Linked DNA regions of Homo sapiens. The protein of the gene in region 3 purifies or fractionates together with the protein of the main gene of each other region. This does not show direct contact. Each region holds a gene or a part of one and is shown on either strand. Other genes may lie near its edges. The genes, in order: CAMK2B, RPL4, ZNF397, P4HA2, ZMAT2, COP1 and P3H4.

Evidence for each region.
Region 1: the proteins of ZNF397 (region 3) and CAMK2B purify together in Homo sapiens (affinity purification with mass spectrometry; one large-scale study listed by BioGRID and IntAct). This does not show direct contact.
Region 2: the proteins of ZNF397 (region 3) and RPL4 purify together in Homo sapiens (affinity purification with mass spectrometry; one large-scale study listed by BioGRID and IntAct). This does not show direct contact.
Region 4: the proteins of ZNF397 (region 3) and P4HA2 purify together in Homo sapiens (affinity purification with mass spectrometry; one large-scale study listed by BioGRID and IntAct). This does not show direct contact.
Region 5: the proteins of ZNF397 (region 3) and ZMAT2 purify together in Homo sapiens (co-immunoprecipitation; one large-scale study listed by IntAct). This does not show direct contact.
Region 6: the proteins of ZNF397 (region 3) and COP1 purify together in Homo sapiens (affinity purification with mass spectrometry; 4 studies listed by BioGRID and IntAct, with this or other methods). This does not show direct contact.
Region 7: the proteins of ZNF397 (region 3) and P3H4 purify together in Homo sapiens (co-immunoprecipitation; one large-scale study listed by IntAct). This does not show direct contact.

Annotation. Positions count from the first base shown.
Region 1 is NC_000007.14:44,228,095-44,231,594, forward strand, and holds part of CAMK2B (calcium/calmodulin-dependent protein kinase type II subunit beta), read right to left. Parts: intron 2,961-3,500; coding exon 2,912-2,960; intron 1,408-2,911; coding exon 1,294-1,407; intron 831-1,293; coding exon 702-830; intron 1-701. UniProt on the Homo sapiens protein: Calcium/calmodulin-dependent protein kinase that functions autonomously after Ca(2+)/calmodulin-binding and autophosphorylation, and is involved in dendritic spine and synapse formation, neuronal plasticity and regulation of sarcoplasmic reticulum Ca(2+) transport in skeletal muscle.
Region 2 is NC_000015.10:66,497,515-66,499,685, reverse strand, and holds the end of RPL4 (large ribosomal subunit protein uL4), read left to right. Parts: intron 1-33; coding exon 34-279; 3' UTR 280-1,671; downstream 1,672-2,171. Other genes in the region: SNAPC5 (snRNA-activating protein complex subunit 5), read left to right, coding at 1,955-2,044. UniProt on the Homo sapiens protein: Component of the large ribosomal subunit. The ribosome is a large ribonucleoprotein complex responsible for the synthesis of proteins in the cell.
Region 3 is NC_000018.10:35,244,034-35,247,170, forward strand, and holds part of ZNF397 (zinc finger protein 397), read left to right. Parts: intron 1-1,228; coding exon 1,229-2,277; 3' UTR 2,278-3,137. UniProt on the Homo sapiens protein: Isoform 3 acts as a DNA-dependent transcriptional repressor.
Region 4 is NC_000005.10:132,203,854-132,207,353, reverse strand, and holds part of P4HA2 (prolyl 4-hydroxylase subunit alpha-2 isoform 2 precursor), read left to right. Parts: intron 1-3,201; coding exon 3,202-3,272; intron 3,273-3,500. UniProt on the Homo sapiens protein: Catalyzes the post-translational formation of 4-hydroxyproline in -Xaa-Pro-Gly- sequences in collagens and other proteins.
Region 5 is NC_000005.10:140,703,447-140,707,186, forward strand, and holds the end of ZMAT2 (zinc finger matrin-type protein 2), read left to right. Parts: intron 1-471; coding exon 472-545; intron 546-979; coding exon 980-1,125; intron 1,126-2,166; coding exon 2,167-2,310; 3' UTR 2,311-3,240; downstream 3,241-3,740. UniProt on the Homo sapiens protein: Involved in pre-mRNA splicing as a component of the spliceosome.
Region 6 is NC_000001.11:176,197,287-176,200,786, reverse strand, and holds part of COP1 (E3 ubiquitin-protein ligase COP1), read left to right. Parts: intron 1-3,500. UniProt on the Homo sapiens protein: E3 ubiquitin-protein ligase that mediates ubiquitination and subsequent proteasomal degradation of target proteins.
Region 7 is NC_000017.11:41,805,450-41,808,949, forward strand, and holds part of P3H4 (endoplasmic reticulum protein SC65 precursor), read right to left. Parts: intron 2,556-3,500; coding exon 2,410-2,555; intron 1,431-2,409; coding exon 1,347-1,430; intron 1-1,346. UniProt on the Homo sapiens protein: Part of a complex composed of PLOD1, P3H3 and P3H4 that catalyzes hydroxylation of lysine residues in collagen alpha chains and is required for normal assembly and cross-linking of collagen fibrils.

The DNA.
Region 1 (3,500 bases), on a different chromosome or scaffold from region 3:
GGGAGAGGCTGCTGGCCAGCAAGAAGCTGTCAGGTAAGTGGCCCTTGAGGAACGCTGGACGGGGTTACAGGGAGAGGAGGGAGTCACGGGCGTTACAGAGGAGGCCTGGCCTGGCCCCATGAGGACAGCCCAGGTCAGCAGAGGCCAGGCTTATGATTCTCCGTACTATCCCCTTGTTGGTGAGCTCCAGAGACCCTGGTCGGGGTTCCAGTTTTGGCACCTTCCTCAGCCTCCTAGACTGAGGGAGGGTGCTCAGGGGTTGGGGCCACATCAGGAACCAGGGTGGCCCTGAGTGCAGCTCCTGGGCACCATGGGCAGGGCCCCTGGGTGGGTGTGAAGTCTGTGGGGCTGGGACAGTGATCAGCAGAGAGGGCCTAGGGGCATGGGGGGCCTCGGAGGGGCCAGGGCTGCCCAGGGCTGGGACAGACATTTTGGAGAGGGGCCTGGGGCTGGACAGCGAGCGGGGAGTGGCAGTGGGAGCAGGAGCCGTGGAGGGGTCTGGGCCCCTTAGGGAGAAGCCAGGAGCTGCCCTGCTGGTTAGCATGGGAGCCCACAGGAAGCCCCGCCAGGGCAGGACTCCAGGCTGCGGCGCCGGGGCAGGGTAGCTGGGCCGTGCATGCAGGTGGGAAGCTGCTGAGCGCCGGCCATTCGCAGGGAGCTGTCCGGCAGCAGAGGCGGCAGGCCTGGGGGCCACTACTTACACGGGGAGGACAGGGGGCCTAGGAGAGCCGGAGACAGGCAGGGCGGGGGCCCCGCTGAGAGGGGGCCCTCGGCTTCTGGGGTTCCTGAACCCCTTCTCACAGAGTTCAGGATGTCAGAGATCCTGGGGGCTGGGGTGGAACAGATGAGACGTGAACATGAGGCAGACAGACACACGAGGCGGCGGCAAGGCGGAGGAGGCCAGTGGGAGGGGTCCCGTGTTCTAGACCCCTTGGGCCCTGGGATCAGGCCCTGAATCAGAGCCTGCCTCAATAGCAGGGAGCCCCCCCGCCCGCAAGCTGAGGTGGAGTGAGGCCTGCACCGACCCTGAAGACTGGAATTGAGGCCCGAGCCTCCAGGGCCTCCCATCCTGCCCAGTGGCCTTGAGCAGGAAAGTGGTCCAGGGCCCTCCTCACAAAGAGGTGGGGCTCGATGGGCTGGGGCCACCCTGGAAAGCCCCAGTGAGGGATTGTGGGGTGATGAGGCTGGAGCCAGGGTCCACGCTCAGCCTGCCCTCGGCTCTGGAGTGGCCCCTCTAGGGGGTTGCCAGCCCTCCAACATGACCCCCACAGCAGCAGGACCCAGGCTACTTACATGGGGCTGGCAGGGGGCTAAAGGGAGCCGGAGATGGGCAGGGCAGGGGCCCCTCGGCTTCTGGGGCTCCCGAGCCCCTCCTCACTGAGCTCAGGATGTCGGGGACCCTGGGGGCTGAGGCGGAACAGGTGAGGCAGGCAGGTGGGTGGTGCGCCCGCAGGAAAAGAAGGCAACTGGAGAAGGACAGGGGGAGGCCAGGAGGGAGGGAGGGGGTGACAGCTGGATACCTGGGGCTCCTGGGGTGGAGGTGGGGTGGCCACCTGTGGGGGTCCTGGGCCTGTGGTGGCCGCAGCAGGTATGTGAAGGCTGAAGGAGCCAACACGGGACCGGTGCCAGAGCCAGAGCCAGCAGAGGCCAGGGCAGCACAGGCCAGTGCAGGCTGGCGCAGAGTCAGAGGCCACCCTGCCACCCTAGTGCTGTGACCACCCCTGGCCAGAGCCAGCAGAGGCCAGGCGCACGGAGAGGGAGTGACAGTCATCGTAGGGGCATGATGGCCACTGAGCCTGCCTGGACTCTGTACCAGCCTCAGGGCAGGCTGGCAAGGCTTCTTTCTGCACGGGGTGGGGTGGGGGGTGTCTGCCTCCACCTCGAGAGGCTGCTCGGGCTCAGATCTGAGCCACAGCTGCTGGCTTCTGGCTGTCTTCTCTTCTCCCCTGCAGGATCCAGGCTGGGCCCCCCTCCCAGGTCCCCTCCCTCACTGCTCAGCACCCCACTCGGCTGAGGGTGATGGAGAACCTCTGGACAGCCTTCATGCTGTTGCCTTTGGGGCCTGTTCCAGACTGCAGGGGAATCACACAAACACCCACTCTCCGGCATCCAGGGCCCAAAGTCCTGTGCTCATCTCTGCTCAGGGACAGTGTCATAGCTGGGTAGGCCGGGCAGGAGCAAGGCTATGCTTTGGACAGGTGAGAAGTTTTCTCCCCTAAACTGGCAGAGTGGCTGACCCTTTTTGGGCACCAGGGTAGCCCTGAGAACAGCATAAGGCTTATTAGGTGACCGTGTGAGCGATGAGGGTCAGGAGGCCCCATGTGGGTGGTCTGGAGGCGGCAGAATCCATGGAGCATGCCCCAGTGCCTGGTGCCCTGGGGGCCTCTTGGGGAACACACAAGACATTGGCCTGGGTGAGCAAGGGAGGGGGCCCTGGAATCTGTGGTGCAGAAACCCACCGCAGCAGGACACTCCTGGCTAAGCAAAGGCAAACACGGAAACACTCACCCAGCTGCCCGGCCACTTGGCAAGTGCATGCTGGACAGAAACGCAAGCTTAAGGAGCTTTAAGACAAGGACAGCATCTTGGAACAAATTCTACCCATGGGCCTGTTTCCCCGTGAGGGTCCTGGTGTGGAGAACCTGCCTCCATGCAAAGCCGTGGCTTCCTCACTTGGATGCGGTGACCGAGACTGCCCAGCTGTCGGTCATCTCTGCCATGCTTCTCCGCTCTGGGCAGGCCTGACACCCAGGCTTGGAGCAGGATTACAGCTACAGGGTCCCTGAGCCCCTCAACACATGCATAAACTAGGCGTCGCAGGAGAGTTGACCCTGCCCAAGTCCCACCCACCTCAAAGAGCAACCCAGCAATGCCAAGGCCGCTGGGGGGGCAAGGACTCAAGTGCAGGTACCTTTAGCGTCTTCATCCTCTATGGTGGTATTGGCACTGTCAGAAGACTCCTGAGGAAACACGGGAGGCAGCGGGTCAGGATGCGGCCAAGGATAGGTGGGACGTGGCTGAGGGCAGGTGGACAGGGCTGGGCCTGTGTCAGGACCAGCCCAGGCTCTGAAGCTGATCTCTGCCTCGGCTGCTTCCACGGGGCTTAAAGGCCAGGGGCTCAGGGGACATGCCCTCTGGCGGCTGCAGGGCCCCAGCTCTGTGGACCTCATGCGGCAGTGACCGGAGAAGACACCCAGTTCTGTGCTGGTCCCTGGGAGGGCGCCCCTCACCAGGGTGCATTCTCACGGCAGCCAGCACAGGCTGGCACGGAGTCCGAGGCCGGCCCTGCCACCCTAGTGCTGTGGCCACCCTGCATCCCCAACACATGAGGGCTCCACTTCTCCCAGCAAGATGAGCCTGGCAGAGAGACTGGTATGCTCAGCTGACTCTTTAACAAGAGAGGAAAATGGGCTTTTTGAAATTCCAAGACGTAAAACACAATGGGACTGGCTGGTTCCAATGAAGCAGCAGCCGGTGTCATCCAAAATACAGGGTGAGGC
Region 2 (2,171 bases), on a different chromosome or scaffold from region 3:
GATTCTTACTGTTTTCTGCCTAATTTGTTGCAGCACAAGCTCCGGGTGGATAAGGCAGCTGCTGCAGCAGCGGCACTACAAGCCAAATCAGATGAGAAGGCGGCGGTTGCAGGCAAGAAGCCTGTGGTAGGTAAGAAAGGAAAGAAGGCTGCTGTTGGTGTTAAGAAGCAGAAGAAGCCTCTGGTGGGAAAAAAGGCAGCAGCTACCAAGAAACCAGCCCCTGAAAAGAAGCCTGCAGAGAAGAAACCTACTACAGAGGAGAAGAAGCCTGCTGCATAAACTCTTAAATTTGATTATTCCATAAAGGTCAAATCATTTTGGACAGCTTCTTTTGAATAAAGACCTGATTATACAGGCAGTGAGAAACATGACTTGGTGTGCTCTGTAAAGCTTGGTTAGAATTTTTTTAAAGTGACATTTTGTTGGCCATAATTTAGACTGTTACATTTTATATAGTGTGGTATAAAATGGGGCATGGATTTATACTAAGTCCATGGAGTTCAGTGGAAGGGGAATGATTTAAAAAAAGTTGTGGTTTTCTAAATAATGTGGCTTGAAAAATAGGTGTAACAGGACTTGGTCAGAAACGCAGAGGCTGTTCAAGTTTAGCTCCCCACCAGATGGAAAATAGGTTAAATTCTGTAAAGATTTAACTTTAACCACAAGAGGGCACAACTGGAGAGCACAATTTTTTTGGTACTGCAGTAAAATTGATTACCTCTTGAGAAGTGTTCTTTTTAACCAGCTATAACAATAGAGTTGAGTATTTTCACCCATGGTTTGAAAAAGTGCCAGAAGGCCACACTGGCCCACATCTGTAATCCCAACACTTTGGGACCCTAAGGTGGGCAGAGCACTTGAGCCAATGAGTTCAAGACCAGCCTGGTCAACATGATGAAATCTCGTCTCTACTGAAAATATAAAAAATAGCCAGTCATGGTGCATGCCTGTAACCCCAGCTACTTGGAGGCTGAGGCAAGAGAATCACTTGAACCTGGGAGGTGGAGGTTGCAATGAGCCAAGATTGTACCATTGCCCTCCAGCCTGGGCGTCAGAGCAAGACTCTCTGAAAAGTACCAGAAGCATTTTTCAGGACTGCCTGTGTGTCTTGGTGATTATGTTAACCAACTGTGTTCAAAAGAAGTACCCATGAAATGCCTCCAGATATAAGGGTGTTTTTTTTTACCCATAAAGCTAAACTGCAAATATTACCCTAGAATTAACCTCTTGTCCTGTGTCAAAAGTCTTGTTTTGCATCTGGATTGTTAAACTGTCAGCTTCTCTCTGACAGTCTCGAACTGTCAAGACAGTCTCAGTTCACAGCCAAGGTGATCTGTTAACCCTCCCCATTTCCAGGGCCAAATCTCAGTTCTTAAGCACGTCGTTTCTTAGCACGGCTTTATTTTCATGCTCTTTATTTCTCTATTTTGTGCAGCCTTACCCCTTTAAAGTCCACTGTGAGTCCTACCCTGCAGGGCCTCTTAACACAGTAGAGTTCATGTGCTACTGATTTGGTGCCTGCCTTCAAACACATGTGCAAGTTTTGTGGGGTTAAAGATAGCCACTTGGTGGCACACCACATTGGAAGTGCTGTTCACCCGGTCATTTGAAACGGTGTTTGACCACTTGGTGCGCAAATGGCCTATCGGATTAAAGGATAGCCAAACCCAAGATTTCTTCAGGTTCTTTACAGCTCCATGGATCTAATTTCAAAATCCTGATCATTACTCATGAATCAAGGTGTTTTGACACAGGCTGTACCCCTTCCTGCAGCTCGTCCCCCGCGGAGTGGCCAGGCTACGGCGGGCGCCGGAAGGGGGCGCACTCCTCGCCTTTCCTCAATGTGTCGGGCAGCCCCGCCTCCCCGCTCGGTTTCCGGGAGTCGGCGGCGATGGCGTCATCACCGAGTGCCGGGCCGACAGCAGCCCGGAGGTTGGCTATGTGACCAGGCAACATGCTGAGCCGGCTTCAGGAACTGCGCAAGGAGGAGGAGACGCTGCTGCGGTTGAAGGCAGCCCTGCACGACCAGCTGAACCGCCTCAAGGTGACCCCGCGGCCCTCTCCTGCCCCTCCTCCATTCCTCCCGAGCGACCATTTCCCCCCAACCTGGGCCTCTGTGGTGACCACCTGCTGCGGCCAGTTCTCCGCTACTCACTAGCTGTGGTGGCGCC
Region 3 (3,137 bases):
AGCTGCAAATGGAGAATCATGTAAGGAAGGCAAGAGTATAGTCCTATTAAAGACTGCTGTAATCCAAGTGGCCACAGTGTATTCAATCAATATGTGTTATGGTAAGCGGTGGAGAACATAAAAGCTGACTCCTGTTCAACAGCATTTAAGTTGTTTTGCAACATCTGGTAATTATTAAAACTAGAGTGTGAGGGAGAGGAGTTGAGGATGATACTGAGGTTTCAGTCTTCAACAGTCTGGTTAATGGTAGTACTGTTCATGTGAATGAGAAAACATAAGGAAAAACAGATACATCTGATGATGTGTTTAGGTTGGTACATTTGGTGCTTGTGAAATATTCAAAAGTAAAATGCCCAATTAGCATAAGACTCTAGAGCTTAATAAAATATGGATATAATTGGGGATCTGGGCAGACATTAGTCAGACAATAGCTTACAATGTAAGATGTAATGGAAGCCAAGGGTAGAGAGTTTGTAGAGTAAGGATACATGAGAGCCCAAAACAGAATCTGGAGGAACGCTCGTGTTTGAGTGATTTACCCTAGAATCTAAGAAGGAACAGCCACAGAAATCAGGCTAATATCACTGGAAGAGAATGTCTCTAGAAGGAAGGTGTGATCCTCAGTGTCAATGCTACAGAGAGGCTAAGTAATAATCTAGAAAGTACTTAGTGGATTAAAGAGCTATGAAGTGATCTTGATGAGAGTAGTATCAGTGGAAGTAGGGGACGGGGCGGTGGGGGGCGGGGGAGGACAGTAAGGCAGAAACCAGATTGTGGAATGAGGATACTTTCACTTGAAAGGCTGCAGACAACTCTTTCAAGAAATCACTATGAGAGAGTGAGGTTGCGAAACCACTTGAGAGAGAGTGAGGTTGCTTGAGGGAGATATGTAGGCAAGAAGGTTGATTTTAAAAGGTGAGAGACACTTAAGCTTATTTAAAAGCTGATGAACAGGAATCAGTTGAGAAAGAGATTGTAAATAGTAGAAAAAAATTGTAGGTAATTTATCAGTTGATGTCTCAAAAGAGGCAGGAAAGGATGGAATTCGAAGTGTAGATGTAGACTTTATTATTAGATAAGAGAGACCCTCTTTTGGCCAGTTGAAAAAAAAGATACTGGAGGACAGTGACATCTTTGTAGGTAGAAGCTTCTGTTTTCTCTCATGTAGAAAGTTTTGACGGTGACAAGAGAAATGTAATATCTGTTTTTTTGCTACTTATTGTTTCAGATTGTGAGAACAGTGAAACAGCAACAAAAGAGGGCATCTCAGAAGAAAAATCACAGGGACTCCCTCAGGAACCTTCATTTCGAGGAATTAGTGAGCATGAAAGCAATTTAGTGTGGAAGCAAGGAAGTGCTACAGGGGAGAAACTAAGATCTCCTTCCCAAGGGGGCAGTTTTAGTCAAGTGATCTTCACAAACAAATCTCTAGGAAAGAGAGACCTTTATGATGAGGCTGAAAGATGCTTGATTCTAACTACAGACTCTATAATGTGTCAGAAAGTTCCTCCAGAAGAGAGACCTTATAGATGTGATGTATGTGGGCACAGCTTCAAGCAGCATTCCTCTCTAACACAACATCAGAGAATCCATACTGGAGAAAAGCCCTATAAATGTAACCAGTGTGGGAAGGCCTTTAGTTTGAGGTCCTATCTTATTATTCATCAGAGAATTCATAGTGGTGAGAAAGCATATGAATGTAGTGAATGTGGGAAAGCTTTCAATCAGAGCTCAGCCCTCATTAGACATCGGAAAATCCATACTGGTGAGAAAGCTTGTAAATGTAATGAGTGTGGCAAAGCATTCAGTCAAAGTTCATATCTCATTATACATCAAAGAATTCACACTGGTGAGAAACCTTATGAGTGTAATGAATGTGGGAAAACCTTTAGCCAGAGCTCAAAACTCATTAGACATCAGCGAATTCACACAGGAGAGAGACCCTATGAATGTAATGAATGTGGAAAAGCTTTCAGGCAGAGCTCAGAGCTGATTACTCATCAGAGAATACATAGTGGAGAGAAACCCTATGAATGTAGTGAATGTGGAAAAGCTTTCAGTTTGAGCTCAAACCTTATCAGACATCAGAGAATTCATAGTGGGGAGGAACCTTATCAGTGTAATGAATGTGGCAAAACTTTCAAAAGGAGCTCAGCCCTTGTTCAGCATCAGAGAATTCATTCTGGGGATGAAGCTTATATATGTAATGAATGTGGGAAGGCTTTCAGGCACAGATCGGTCCTTATGCGCCATCAAAGAGTCCACACTATAAAGTAATTTGTGAATACTGTGAATAGTGTAAATACTTCAGTCAGATTTTTAAGTTTGTTAGTCAAAAGAGTTTACTTTGGAGCAAAACTCCATAAAGGTTATAAAATACTAGGTCTTGAGTCTAGCTTGCTTTGTGCAGCATTTCCCAGTGCTAATGTAAAGTGTCCCTTGAAAGCTTTTCCTGTGACTAATCAGAACAGAATACAGAAGAATCATTACTTCCAGCTCTTCTCTTATTAGGAATACTCAGGAAATACGAAAAGTGGGAATGTAACATTGAAACCTCATTTTGTATGAAAGTGTCATGAATATAGCAACCCAGGCTCTGTCACTGCATCTGATTGTTAGTGTGCCAGGTTATGGGGCTGGTGTGGACTGTGTGAGGCACTTCGTCTCAGGAACTAAAAAAAAAAAAAAAACTGACCCAATAAAGAACAGTGACAGAGCAGCAGGAAAGGTGGGGAAATGGCTTCATCAATGATTTGTTGAGCCCAGGGCAGGCCAGGAATTAGATAGGCATGAGAAGAAAGAATATAATTTACCCAAAGGTTATTTTTTGAGTACCTACTTTGTCCCAGGAACTAGGAATACAGTGGAAAACAAGACTGTAGTCTCTACAGTCTAATGGGCAAGGCAGCCAGACAGGCAGTGAAAGTGGAATGCTCCTATGTGACCTTAAGGAGCACCTGACTCAGCCTTGGATAAGGAAATGGGGGAAATGGCCTGAAGGATGAGGAGGAGTTAGCCAAGGTGGTACTCTAGGGAAGTGGTACCCCAGTAAAGAACAGTAGCCAAAGGCCAGAAACAAAGTGTGGAGCATTCCTTGAGTTCCTGTTGTAGTGAGGTCTTGTCTGTCAGAGAAGTCT
Region 4 (3,500 bases), on a different chromosome or scaffold from region 3:
TCCTGATTAGGACTGTAAATGAGGTGAATGACTTAGAGGAGAATGTATATCTTTATAATATTGGGTCTTCTCATCCAAGGGCATGACAGGTCTCTCCATATCTTTTTAAGTTTTCTTCATATAAGCCTTGAACATTTCTTAAGTTTATTCCTTGGTAGTTTCTTTGTTACTGTTAATTTACTTTATTTCTTCATTATTATTTTTAACTGGTTACATTATTTTATTAGTTTACTATTATATGCCAAACTATTGATTTTACAAATACATTTCATAGTAAGAGCTAATGTTTACTGAATTCTTAACTGTGGCAGGAACTTCTAAGTGCTTAACATATATATTAAGTGTTATGTCACAGTTATGAACAGCTGCTCATAATGATGTCACTGTCTCTGTTTTACCTATGAAAAAGCAAACTCATACAGATTGCAGCTAGTGGTTGAATTTACTTATTTCTTTTTTGGTTTTTAGCTGATTTCTCTTTGGTTGCCTGGATAGCATTAACACCTGGAAATAAGGAAAATTTTATTTTCTCCTGATACTTGTAGTTCCTTTGTTTTTATAACCTTATTGAATTGCCCAGAACTTCTAGAGCATAATTACGTAGAATAGGCATCCTTGTCTCATTCCTGAATTTCCTGGAAATTCCTATGGTATTTTACTGCTAAGAATGCAGTTGGCTGTTGGTTTTGTATATATGCCATGTTTTAAAATTATTCTTCTGTTTCTAGTTCATAAAAGATTTGTTCCCCATTTGACATCTTTCAAAGAGACCTATTTGCTGCCATATCCCATCACTGATGATTGGGAGGGAGGATTTAGCTCGATTCTCTATTGCTCTGCTCCTAATAGAATTGTAGGGGCCGAGGTGACCAGGAGGCCCGACACTCATGGAGAGACCTGAAATAGGTTCCTATCCTGGCCCCTGGACCTCATCTTGGAACAGCTTTGGCTTGAGGTACTAGGACATCTAGGGCTTTGAGTCAGTGGTTGGCATCATCGATGTGGCTGAGGAAGGGGGCTAGCCAGATATATGGAGAATGGGGACTAGGACTCCCCTTTCTACTCAGCTCCAGAGTCCTCCAGGAAAGAAAACTACTTTGTTGGTTGTGCCAGGATTTCCTGAGAGATTTCTTACCCGTTCTTCAGTTCCAGACACTGAGAACATTTCTCTGTGCATGTGTGCATATGTGTACACATGTGTGTGGCTGGCCAGAGGGTAGTGTTAGGAAAAGATATATTTGAATAGAAGCCATGCAAAGAGCCAAACAAGGTTGGCAAACATGTTTGGCTCTTAACATGGCTTCTATTCAAAGATAAGCTGACCCCTCCTTTCCGGAGACTGTGAGGGACAGATGCTATTCTGGCTTTGAAGTAGAGCCAATGAGCTTAACTTGGCCTGTGGGGAATGCCTGGCAGCTGTCTGTGGGGTCTCTGGCCTGCTTTCAAAATAGCCCTGTGCTTCCCCTGGGGCAGAGCACAGCTGCTCAGAGCCTCTTTGTGGGTGTCAGGCCAATGCTGAGGCACAGATGTTTGGATGGGGTCTGGCTGTGGCTGCAGTTTTCAGGGAGGGACTGACATGAGCTGAAGCTCAGGAAGGGCCATGAGTAGGAGCTTGGGAGCCGTCTGTCCTGCTTGTGCTGGCCATCTTACCAGATCATGCCATAGCAGCACAGTGTCCAAGTTGGTCCATCTCACCCCCTTACTAGCCTTCTGGTCCATCTACTCCTCTCCATCCCTTCTGCCACCACCTGGCCCGGGCCACCATCATCTCTTGCCCTGACCTCTGTCGTGGCCTCACTAGCCTCCCAGTCCCCACTCTGGCCCCTCATTAGTCAACTCTCCATGAGGTATTCACAGTGATCCATTTTACATTCACATTTTGAGTGTCCCTCCCCTGCATAAAGCCTTCCCCATTTCTCGTTGGCCACAAGGTTGCATCTAGTTCCTAGCCCCTGCTTGTCTCTTCAGCCTGTTCTCTCTTACTACTTCCCATAACCTTTAATCCACACCTACTGCAACACCCATTTTCATTCCCAGGCCTCTGGATTGCTGCTCTTTCCCTGTTCCTGTAATGTTCCTCTACTTGGATAACTCATGTTAACCCTTCAGGCCTCAGCTAGGTGGTCTCCTCCCCTAGGAAGCTATTCTTGACACTATACCCTGAGCTTCCACAGGATGGTAAGTTCACCCATGCTGTGCTGCAGTTACCTGACTGGTTTTCTGCTTTCCCCACTTGACTGAGTTGTAAGAGTGCAGGGGCCATGTCTCAGTTACCTAGCATAGTGCCAGGCACAAAGTAGGCACTCATCAATATTTATTGAAATCAAGGGGAAGTGTGTTGGGGTGGGAGTACCTGGGCCTATGGCCCCACCCATGTGAGGTCATGAGGACAGTCCACAGCTGAAGCACATGGACCTTTGCCATGTTGGCTGGCTCTGGGCGGCGAGTCCCCCTTGGGGTTTCACTAAGCCTAACTGTGGAGGCTGGGGGAGATGAAGTAGATGCAGGGAGTGCATGTGTAGTGTGTACCTGTATGAGTGGGTGGCTTCCAGGCAGTGGTTCACTTATTTTAACTTACAGAATCTTTTCCTGGTTTTATCATCTGACTTGTAAGGATCCCAAGGGAGCGAAAACTGTGCCATCTGTCTTTGCTTCTTGAGGCTGTGGGAACCCAGTGTGAGGTGGTGCAGCAGGAGAGTGTTTGGATGGGTTTCTTGGCAGAGGAGCCCACTGAGGTTCGGAAGGATGGTGGAACTTGACTCAATTGAGAGAAGTACATAAGGCGGAGGCTCAGGCATGGTGGCACAGTCTGAAAATGGTGGGAGTAGCTAAGCTCAGGCAGGCTGTGCTCAGGCAGGGGTGGTATGTGGGCCTGGCAAGGAAAGGGGCTAGTCAGGCAGATGCATGGGTAGACAAGGCAGGCATAATTCTGCAGGCAAAGCGGACCTGGGGAGGAGAAGGGATGAGCAGTGACCGAGCAGGGCAATAGCCAGGAACTGATTGCGGATTGGGAATGTGGAGGCCTCAGACTCTTGCCCTCAACTGGCCTGCAGGATCTTGGGGCCTTGGCTAGAGCCATTGGCTGCAAAGCTTCCTCCACTAGCATGGCAGTAAATCTGGTCCCAGTGCTCTCTGGGAAAATATTCAAGGCAAAACAAACAAACAAACAAATCAAGTCTTCCCTCTCCTCCTTCCTTCTAGCTTGCACGAGCCACCGTTCGTGATCCCAAGACAGGAGTCCTCACTGTCGCCAGCTACCGGGTTTCCAAAAGGTAAGCAAAGAGCAGGGGTTCGTAGCTGCTCAAGCCCCAACTTCAGGACTTCTCAGTGCCTACCCTAGGGATGGGTGGCTTGCCTTTTCCTGCCTGCTGGCACCTCCTCACCCCCTTGCAGCAGGCATCCTGTACTGCCTGTTCATGCTGGCCCTGACTCTGGGGACAGAGTTCAGGACCTCATGGAAGCCTGCCCTTCCGTCTTCTTTTCTCTGCCCTTTTCTTTTT
Region 5 (3,740 bases), on a different chromosome or scaffold from region 3:
TAGTCTCGAACTCCCGACCTCAGGTGATCCGCCCGCCTCGGCCTCCCAAAGTGCTGGGATTACAGGCGTGAGCCACCATGCCCGGCCACCCCATAGACCTTTCTATAAGACTGCTCACAATAAAGCAACTGGCTTCCCCAGAGCAAGTAACCCAAACAAAGACAGAAGGCATGGTTTTTAAAATAACCTAATTTTGGAAGATACTACTTTTGACATATTCTATTGGCCAAACAGACCAACTCTGGTACAAATTGGGAAGAGACTACACAGAGTAGGAATACCAAGAGGGTGGGGCTCATCCTGGGGCTGTCTTGGAAGATGACTGCTATACTCTCTCGAAAGCTAAGGCTTTATAGAAATGAAGGCTTAACACTTCTAAAAAGAAGTTTACCTAAAAATTTGAGTTTCTTGGTTGAAAATGATAAGATCCTTAAAACCATATTTGACTCAGGTGCTGTTTCTTCCTGTTAGATATTACTGCAATGTCTGTGACTGTGTGGTGAAGGACTCCATCAACTTTCTGGATCACATTAATGGAAAGAAACGTAAGGCTTGGAGGTAGCTTGTGACTAGGGCTGGAATTGGGTTTTGGAGGTGGGGTGGAATGGAAGGGTAGCTTTTTTTTTCTTCTTTTTACTCATCAAAAGATGGCTGGAGTAAGAAGGGTAGTTTCTACTGGGCTCTTTTTTGATGCCCCTATTAGAACTCTCCAGTTGTTTCAGCACAGGCCGTCTTTTACTTCATTATGTAATATTTCTGGAGGCCGTGAGGTAAGAGGCCTCATTCTGGAGGCCATGAGGCTTTCAACAGCACCCAAACCATGTGCTGCTCCTGGACCCAGCTGGCCAAGGGAGTTTCTTTTAGCCATAATTATTTTTGCTGTGTGTTTTATGAGATGTCAGAGAAGTCAGGAAAATAATTTTTGAGGGGCTGAGGATGTTGTAATGAACTTGCCTTCTTCACTGTTGACCCTATGCAGATCAGAGAAACCTGGGCATGTCTATGCGTGTGGAACGTTCCACCCTGGATCAGGTGAAGAAACGTTTTGAGGTCAACAAGAAGAAGATGGAAGAGAAGCAGAAGGATTATGATTTTGAGGAAAGGATGAAGGAGCTCAGAGAAGAGGTAAGGGTCTCCTATCCTTCCCCTCTCCCCCAGATTTGAGTTTTATGTTATGAATCATGGGAGACCCTGTCCTCATCCCACTCCTACTCCCACCCCCAGAGTTGTATCTCCTGAGTTCTGTATATTAGCGGAAACATTTGTTGCCTTTGTTTAGGATTCTCATGATCTGAAGGAAATGGCTCTGAAACTACTTTTTTCTCCTAGACTCTCTGGGCCTTATTTTTTTTTTTGTAATTTAAAAAAAAATTTTTTTTTTTTTTGGTCATACAGATATTTCTCAACTTCTGATGGGGTTACCTACTGATAAACCTATCATCAAGTTAAAAATATCATAAGTCAAAAATACATAATACACCTAACCTACTGTAGTTTAGCCTAGCCTACCTTAATGTGCTCAGAACACATTAGCCTACAATTGACCCAAATTATCTAACACAAAGCCTATTCTATAATAAAGTATTCATCTCATTAATTTATTGAATACTGTACTGAATGTGAAAAACAATGGTTGTATGGATACTTGAAGTACAGTTTCAAATGCATGTCAGTTTTTCACCATTATAAAATTGAAAAATCTTGTCAGCATCATAAGTTGAGGACTGTCTCATCTGTATTCTTTGATTTAATTTTTTTAAAAGACTAAACTTTTTTTAGAGGAGTTTAGGTTTGCAACAAAATTGAGAGGGAGTTATAAAGATTTCCCATATACCCACTGTCCCCCACAACATGCATAGCCTCCCCCATAATTTTTTTTTTTTTTTAACTGCAAGAGGAATTAACTAAATGTACCTAGTCCTAAAGAGACCCATGAAATCAGGCTGACTGGGTCAAAATTCTGTTTCTTCCACTTACTGGCTGTGAATCTTGGGCAAGTTATATAACCTCTTTGTGCCTCAATATCCCCATATTAGAGATCTTAATATACATGAAGTACTCAGAGCAATTTCTGGCATGTACTGCATGCCCCAGAATGTTAGTTGTTGTTACAAACAACATTTGGCTGAGGAGTCTAAACTGATTCTGAGTGATTTTTCCCTCCAGGAGGAAAAGGCCAAAGCGTACAAGAAAGAGAAACAGAAGGAGAAGAAAAGGAGGGCTGAGGAGGACTTGACATTTGAGGAGGACGATGAGATGGCAGCTGTGATGGGCTTCTCTGGCTTTGGTTCCACCAAGAAGAGTTACTGAGGCTTTCTGTGCTTGGCCTGACTTTGGCCTATGCTGGACCTAACTTTGCGTGTGTGTGTGTGTAGTAGGGGGTCATTTCTTTTTGGGTAATGGGAAAGTTCTTAAGAGTGTCAATGGGGAGGGATAGAGGGTGGGGGCTCATGGTTTCCCTCTACTTTGGGAGAGGGCACAGATTGCAGAGGTAATGCTGTGGCATATTGCTTCTGCCTCAGTGTATCACTGGAGTCACAGGACCCTGCCCACCTGAGTTCCCAATAAAGAAAAACCTCCCCTTCTGAGGCTGCTTTCCCAAAACTCCCCCTGCATCTTTATCTCTTCATCTATCCCACCTCTTGTCTGAACATCCCACCTTTATCCTGTGTTCTGCCTTTGTTTTAATTTTAACTCATGTTCATCCTGCAACAGAAGCATTCTCTAGGTCCCAGTTTCCAGTTGATTGCATATCCTTGATCAGCCCTTTTTCCCATCCTGCCCTATGGTTCTCTAGCCACCTGTGCATGCATGTGTATTTCTGCCTGGTTCTATGGTGTGTGGATGTGTGTGCATGAATCTGTCATATAGAGGGGGTCCGAGCTGGAATCCTAGAGCATTGCTGCCCTGGGGCCTGATGTTCTTGGCTTCCTCAGAGCATGTAACAGGAAATTAAATGGGATGAGTGTTTGGTGTGGTTTGTGTCTGATGAGTTTTTTAACATTCAGGTGTAGATTGTTTCAGCTTCTCATGTTTCATTTTCCTGAAGATTTATGTTTTTGTCTACCTTGTGAGCAGGCTTTTGGAAGAACCTGTTTGATGCAAAAAAGAAAATGAAAAACAAAACAAAAAATCCCCAAAACCTTATTATGGGAGCCCGTCGGTCTTAGAAGCTGTTTGACATGTATAATAAATGGCATTGACTGGGCCTGTTTTACATTTGGTGAGAACATTCCATAATCTTCCCTGTGAATATTTGTTTTTCCTTCTCATGCTGAGGATTTCCATATAGAGTATTTTATTCTTCCATTTTAAATCTTATTTTTGCCTAGGTTTTTTTTTAGCATGAGTTATGTTTTCGTCTGATAAGGGATCTATGTCCAGAGAAGTCTGAACCAAAACGATTCCTATCATTTCAGACTCCTTTGATCTTTTGTTTTTGGAACAGCAGAGCTCAGGATTGAACATAATGTTTTTTCTTTTTTTTTTTTCTTTTTTTTGAGACAGTCTTGCTCTATCGCCCAGTCTGGAGTGCAGTGGCGTAATCTTGGCTCACTGCAACCTCCGCCTCCTGGCTTCAAGTGGCTAATATTGTATTTTTAGTAGAGATGGGGTTTCACCATGTTGGCTAGGCTGGTCTCAAACCCCTGACCTCAGGTGATCCACCTGCCTCGGCCTCCCAAAGTGCTGGGATTACAGGCGTGAGCCACTGCACCTGGCCCTTAGTGTTTTTCTTACTG
Region 6 (3,500 bases), on a different chromosome or scaffold from region 3:
TCTTTCTTTATGTGTGTATGAGCCAAGTTCTATTCAGATAGGTTGGTACTTTCTCAAACAATATATTCACTGAGAGTAACATGTTTTTCTTTATACTTAAAATATGTTAGTTGTCCTTTCATTTTTCACAATTAAGTTTTATGAACTGATTTTGCCTCTGTTTCTATATAAAGTGAAACATAGAATGCAGTAGGTGATCTGATTTCTGTTTATTGTATTTCTGGTGTAACCATTGGGAATCCATCCTTCTTTCCTAATCTGTGTGGTTTGGGGTGGTACATTTTTTCCCCAAATTCAGAATTGGAACACATGATCCATGCTCAAGTGTCTAGTGCATTGGAATCCTCTGTCTTTAGTATTAATTCACAGATGGGCATTTGGCTCTAAATAGAGATAATGAGACAAAGTAGGCTTTGTAAAAATTACGACTGTTTTGGGGGTTCTTTTAGATATTTGAAACTCAAACGTTCATAAATGCCAAGTCCACTCAAGTGAAGATGGAATGTGTTGTACTGACAATTAGTTTGGGACAAATACTCATAATAATAAGTGCTCAAATATAAATTGCTATTTGCCAGGCACTATTTTAAAGGTTTTACGTTACTTGTTTAATCTTCACAACAACTGTTTGCTGTAGATACTCTTATAGTTCCCATTTTGTAGATGAGGAAATGTGGCCCATAGAGGTTATATAACTTGTCTCAGTTACACGGTTAATAATGGTGGTACCAGTATTTATATTCAGACAATTTGGCTCAGAGGTCAGGTTCTTAACCACTATTACAAATGGTTACCCAAGTTAACCACCCATTTCCTTGCCTTTATTTAGAGGCTGATTTTGTTTAAAATTAGCTTTACTAAGTTATAATTTGCATAAAATAAGTCACTGGTCATAAGTGTGTAGTTGAATGAGTTTTGACACATGAATACACCTGTGCAGTCACCACCCTAATGAAGATATGATACATTTCCAGAAAGTTCACTTTTGCCAGCACTTCATACTCTGTGTCTACCTTCACACCTAACACCTGGCAACCAGTGATCTGCTTTGCATTGCTGTCATTTTGCCTTTTCTGGAATTTCATATTAATGGAGTCCTTTAGTCGGTAGTCTTTTGTGTCTGGTTTCTTTCGTTTGGTATAATGTTTTGAAATACACTGATGATGTTGAGTGTACTGTTTTTTTTCTTTTAATTGCTTAGTATTATCCCATTATATGGATATAACATGAACTGCTTATATATTTGCTAGTTAAAAGATTTTTGACTTGTTTCTAGTTTTTGGCTATTATTTAGAAAATTCTGTAAGCATTCAGGTTTTTGTGCAGACACGTCTTCACATTTTTAGGGTAAAAATATCTAGTAGTGAATTGCTGAGTTCTCTGCCAAGTGTATGTTTAGTTTTAAAATAAACTGCAAAACTTTTTAAAAACTGCCTCTACCATTTTGCATTTCTTTTTTATCTTTTTTTGAGATGGGAGTCTCATACTGTCGCCCCAGCTGGAGTGCAGTGGCACGATCTCAGCTTGGTGCAACCTCTGCCTCCTGGGTTCAAGCAATTCTCCTGCCTTAACCTCCCGAGTAGCTAGGATTACAGGCGCCCGCCACCATGCCAAGCTAATTTTTTGTATTTTTAGTAGAGATGGGGTTTCACTGTGTTGGCCGGGTTGGTCTCGATCCCTGGACCTCATGGTCCCCACGCCTCGGCCTCCCAAAGTGCTGGGATTACAGGTGTGAGCCACCACACCCGGCCACCATTTTGCATTTCTACCAGCAACAATTAAAAGTTCTTTTATTTGGTTTGTATTTATTTCTTGTATTGTTTTATTTGTTTTTAATTGTTTCACATCCTTGCCAGTGCTCAGTGTTTTCAGTCTTTTAAATATTAGTCATTTTTGTGGATATGTAGTTTTATCACATTGTTATGTAACATATTTTTATGTGCTTATTTTTCATTTGCATATCTTTTGTGAAATGTCTGTTTTGATCTTTGGCCCATTTTTTCCCTTAAAATTGCATGTCATCTTGCGTTGTAAGTGTTCTTTATGTATTCTGCATACATCTTTTGTCAGACCTGTGTATTGTGGTATTTTCTCTTAGTCTGTTGCTTATCTTTTCATTTTCTTAATAATTTTTTAAAGTGCAAAAGTTTTTTCTTTTTTCTAATGTATCGATAAAGTTTTCAGTTTTAAGTCCAAATTGATTTTTATTATTTTTAATTTTTGTGTTCTAGCTAAGAAGTTATCTAACATGAAATTAGAAAACATTCTCTTGTATATTTTCTACTAGAAGATTTATAGTTTTCTTATGGTTATGATCCACTTCAAGTTAGTTTTTATACACTGTGTTTGGTAAGGGTTGAAGGCTTCATTAATATTATAACATCATTTGTTGAAAAGATCATCTCTGTTCATTGAATTTTCTTGGCACCTTTCTCAAAAATTAACCATATATATGAGTTTATTTCTGCAATTTTTATTCTGTCCCGTTGGTGTATATATGTTTATCCCTACACAAGTGCCACACTGTTTTGATTATGGTATTATTATAGTACATCTTGAAATCAGGTAGTGTAATTTTTATCCTTTATTTCAAAGTTGTTTTGATTATTTATGTTCTTTGCATTTCCACATAAATCTTAGGATTAGCGTGCCAATTTCTATAAAAAAGGATGTAGGATTTTAATGTTGGTTACTTTGAATCTGTGATTTCATTTGGGAAGATGACATCTTAATATTATCTTTTGAATCATGAACATAGTATATTTCTCCAATTATTTAGGTCCTCTGTAATTTCTCTTAGCAGTGTTTATGCTTTTCAGTTGAGGTTTTTCACCATATTTTTAAAATTTACCCCTAAGTATTTTATGTTTTTGATGGTGTTCTAAATGTTGTTCTTTTAATTTCGATTTCTAATTGTTGCTAGTATGTAAATACACTTTTTTTATGTTGACCTTGTATTTTATGAAATTTTAAGTTTACTTACTAGTTCTAATAATTTTTTGGTAGAACCTATAGGATTTGTAAGAAAACAGTCATGTTATCTGTATATGAATATACTTTTACATCTTTTAAATTTATATGCCCTATTTAAAGAACGTACGTTAATGGATTTATTTGATTGGGTAATTGTTTAAAAGGATTTTTTGGACCTTTATTAGTGAGTGATACTGGTCTGTGAATTTCTTTTAATTTTTTTCTGGTTTTCATATCACAGTGTATTGGTTTGCTTGGGCTGCCGTAACAAAATACAACAGACTAGGTGGCTTAAACAACAGAAATTTATTTTCTCATAGGTCTAGAGACTAGAAGTACAAAACAATGTGTAGGCAGATTCGGTTTCTTCTGAGGCCTGTTTCCTTTCTTTTTTTCAAAAGAGGTGGTCTTGCTGTCTCGCCCAAGCTGGAGTACAGTGGCACCATCACACTGCTTACTGCATCCTCGAACTTCTGGGCCCAAGGGATCCTCCTCCCTCATCTTCCTAGTAGCTGGCTCTACAGGCA
Region 7 (3,500 bases), on a different chromosome or scaffold from region 3:
CAGTAGCTGGGATTACAGGTGCCCACCACCACACCTGAGTAATTTTTGTATTTTTAATAGAGACAGGGTTTCACTATGTTGGCCAGGCTCGTCTTGAACTCCTGATCTCAGGTGATCCCTCTGCCTCGGCCTCCCAAATTGCTGGGATTACAGGCATGAGCTACCATACCCGGCCAGATCTTGTGTTATTCTCACCACAACAATGTGAGATGGGCATGATTCTCCCCATTCAATGGATGAAGAAACAGAAGCTTGAGAGGTTGCCTGACACTTGTTTGGAGGCCACCCAACTGGTAAGTAATGGAGCCAGGTCTGGCTAGTTCCTCATCCTGGGTGCTGACGGTGTAGATTCTGCCCTCCTCCTCTGGGGTTGGATGGGTGGGGGCGTGGGGGCATGAACAAAGGAGAGGATACATAAATGAGCACTGAGCAGCAACACCTCAGAGAAATTAAGGCTGTCAAACCCTCACTTGAAATCAATGTTAATAGGGCCGGGTGCGGCTGCTCACGCCTGTAATCCCAGCACTTTGGGAGACCGAGGCAGATAGATCATGAGGTCACGAGGTCGAGACCAGCCTGACCAACACGGTGAAACACTGTCTCTACTAAAAATACAAAAATTAGCCAGGCGTGGTGGTGCACGCCTGTAATCCCAGCTACTCCGGAGGCTGAGGCAGGAGCATCGTGTGAACCCGGGAGGCAGAGGTTTCAGTGAGCTGAGATGACACCACTGCACTCCAGCCTGGGCGGCAGAGCGAGACTCCATCTCAAAAAAAAAAAATAAATAAATAAATAAAATAAATCAATGTAATACAATACGGTCCTTCTGTCCTGAGGTCCTGCATTCATTCATTCACTGGTTCATTCAAACTCAGTTTCTGAGCCCAGGCTCTGTGCAGGATGTGGGAGAACAGGGAATAATGTGGCCCTGTGTCCTGCAGTGCGGTTCTCCTGGATACTGGCTGGAGAAGGGGCCCAGGGCTGAGATGGACGAGGGCTGCAATCACCCAGGTCCAGGCCACAGGTGGCCAGGGAGGCACACAGGTCAGAGTGGGCACTGCTAGCCCAGAACAAAGAGCCAGGGCATGCAGCAAGGGCTTCCTGGAGGAGGCACCATGTGAGCTGGGCCTGGGAGGAACAGGATTGAGACATGTACAAAAGGAGGACATGAGAATACTAAGGCTGGGGAAGGAACGGACAGTCTAGACAAGGAACAGGCAAACCTCTCTTCTTCACGACAGCTGACCACCAGGGGCTGGGGCTGAATTCTGGCACACTGGTGGCCCCAGGAAAAGGTCCAAGGTGTCCCCATCACAGCCCAATCCTGGAAAGCAGGAGGCACTCACCTCATCATCTGACTGCAGGTACATGTGGGTGAACTCCAGCAGCTCCCGCAGCTCGGCGGTCTGGTTGTGGTAGAGCATGGCCTCCTGGAAGGAGGGAAGGACGGGGTGGGGGGTGAGCCATACCCTGTTGCCAGATGGCAAGAAGCCAGGGCTCCTAGGATCTGGGCCCACTGGCCCTCTTCTAGCTCAAGGATCAGAGAATAGGTATCAGCTCACAAGCTCATCAGATCATCGTGGCTGCTTGGAACACTGGGTTAAGGATTCTGAGAGTTTGGTGACAAAGAGTCCCTCAATCGATTAGCAATGTCTGCCACTGACAAGGAAGGCAGGAGTGGCACCATGTGCCCCATATTTGCCAGCCTGGCCCTCAACTCCAACAGATTTCCTCCATTGGTTACCTAGGGTGTTCCTGGGAAAGAGGGACAAAGGTCAGCAGTGAGGGTAATGAAGGTAGGGAGGGGAGCAGGTAGGAGTGGATGTGTACCTTCATACCTCCCTCGTCTGGACACTGCTGGTGAGGTGGCAGTATCACTGCCATTTTGCAGGTGAGGCAATAGATTAGGAAAGGGCCATGGTCTTCCCAGGACCACACAGCAGTGGGGCTGGGCTCTGAAGCCAGGACTCTAACCTCAACTCATATTCTTTCTTTCCATTTCCCATCCTGCCTTCCATGGAAGCCAGGAGTTTATTTTTTATTATTTATTTATTTATTTTTCTTTTGAGACGGAGTCTCGCTCTGTCACCCAGACTGGAGTGCAGTGGCGCGATCTCCGCTCACTGCAAGCTCTGCCTCCCAGGTTCACGCCATTCTCCTGCCTCAGCTTCCCGAGTAGTTGGTACTACAGGCGTCCACCACCATGCCTGGCTAATTTTTTTTTCTTTTCAGTAGAGACGGGGTTTCACCGTGTTAGCCAGGATGGTCCTGATCTCCTGACCTCGTGATCCACCCGCCTCAGCCTCCCAAAGTGCTGGGATTACAGGCATGAGCCACCGCGCCCGGCCGCCAGGAGTTCATTTTTTACAAAGTGCATATCCAGCAAGTGCCCCAGAAAGCAGTGCCCACCTCCCGGGGCTGGAAGTCCTCCTCTTCCAGGCCCCAGCGAGCCCGGTGGAACCGGTAATACACCAGGTTCTGCTGCATGACGCTGTCCTTGGGGTCGAAGAGCATGTAGCTGGCGGCGCTGCGGGCAGCCTGGCGCACATCATTCACTGCAGCAGGACAGGGGTGAGGAATTGCTCTGGCACTTCCCCTTCAGAGTCAACTCCATCTTCCAGTTCAGTCCAGCACCCCTGCTACCCAGCCACCTCCCAGAATACCTAATGGGCTCCTTATCCCACCCAAGCATAATGCCAGCTAGCATGTAGTGGGCACTTACCCTATGCCAGGCCCTGACTAACTCATCTAAGCCTCACTGTTATTGTCTTTTTATTGTTTTTGAAACAGGGTCTCACTCTATCACCCTGGCTAGAGTGCAGTGGTGCAATTATGGTCACCTCAAGCTTGATCTCCCAGGCTTAGGTGATCCTCTCACCTCAGCCTCCTGAGTAGCTGGGATTACAAGCAGGCACCACCACACCCATCTAATTTTTTGTATGTTTTTGTTTGTTTTGAGACAGGGTCTTGTTCTGTCACCCAGGTTGGAGTGCAGTGGTGTGATCTCGGCTCACTACAGCCTCTGCCTCCTGGGCTCAAGCAATCCTCCCACCTCAGTCTCCCCAGTAGCTGGGACTACAGGCACGCGCCACCATGCCTGGCTAACTTTTTGTATTTTTTGTAGACACGGGGTCTTGTCATGTTGCCCAGGTTGGTCTCGAACTCCTGGGCTCAAGCCATCTGCCTGCCTGGGCCTCCCAAAGTGCTGGGATTACAAGTGTGAACCACTGTGCCCAGCCATGCCTACCTATTACTGTCATCCCCATTTTACAGTCAAGAAATCTGAGTCACAGAGAGGTTAGATAAATTGCTCAAGCTCACACAGCTGGAGAATGATGGCTCTAGTGAATTAGAGGCCCTTAGCCTCTCTGCTATGTGTACCCAGGAAGGGTCTCCTGGCCCCTGGGTTCTCAGCCCCTCTGCTCTGACTCCTGGCTCTGTCTGAATCTTGGCATCTCCGAGCTGCAGGAACACTGGAGGCTGTCCATTCCAGCCCCAGT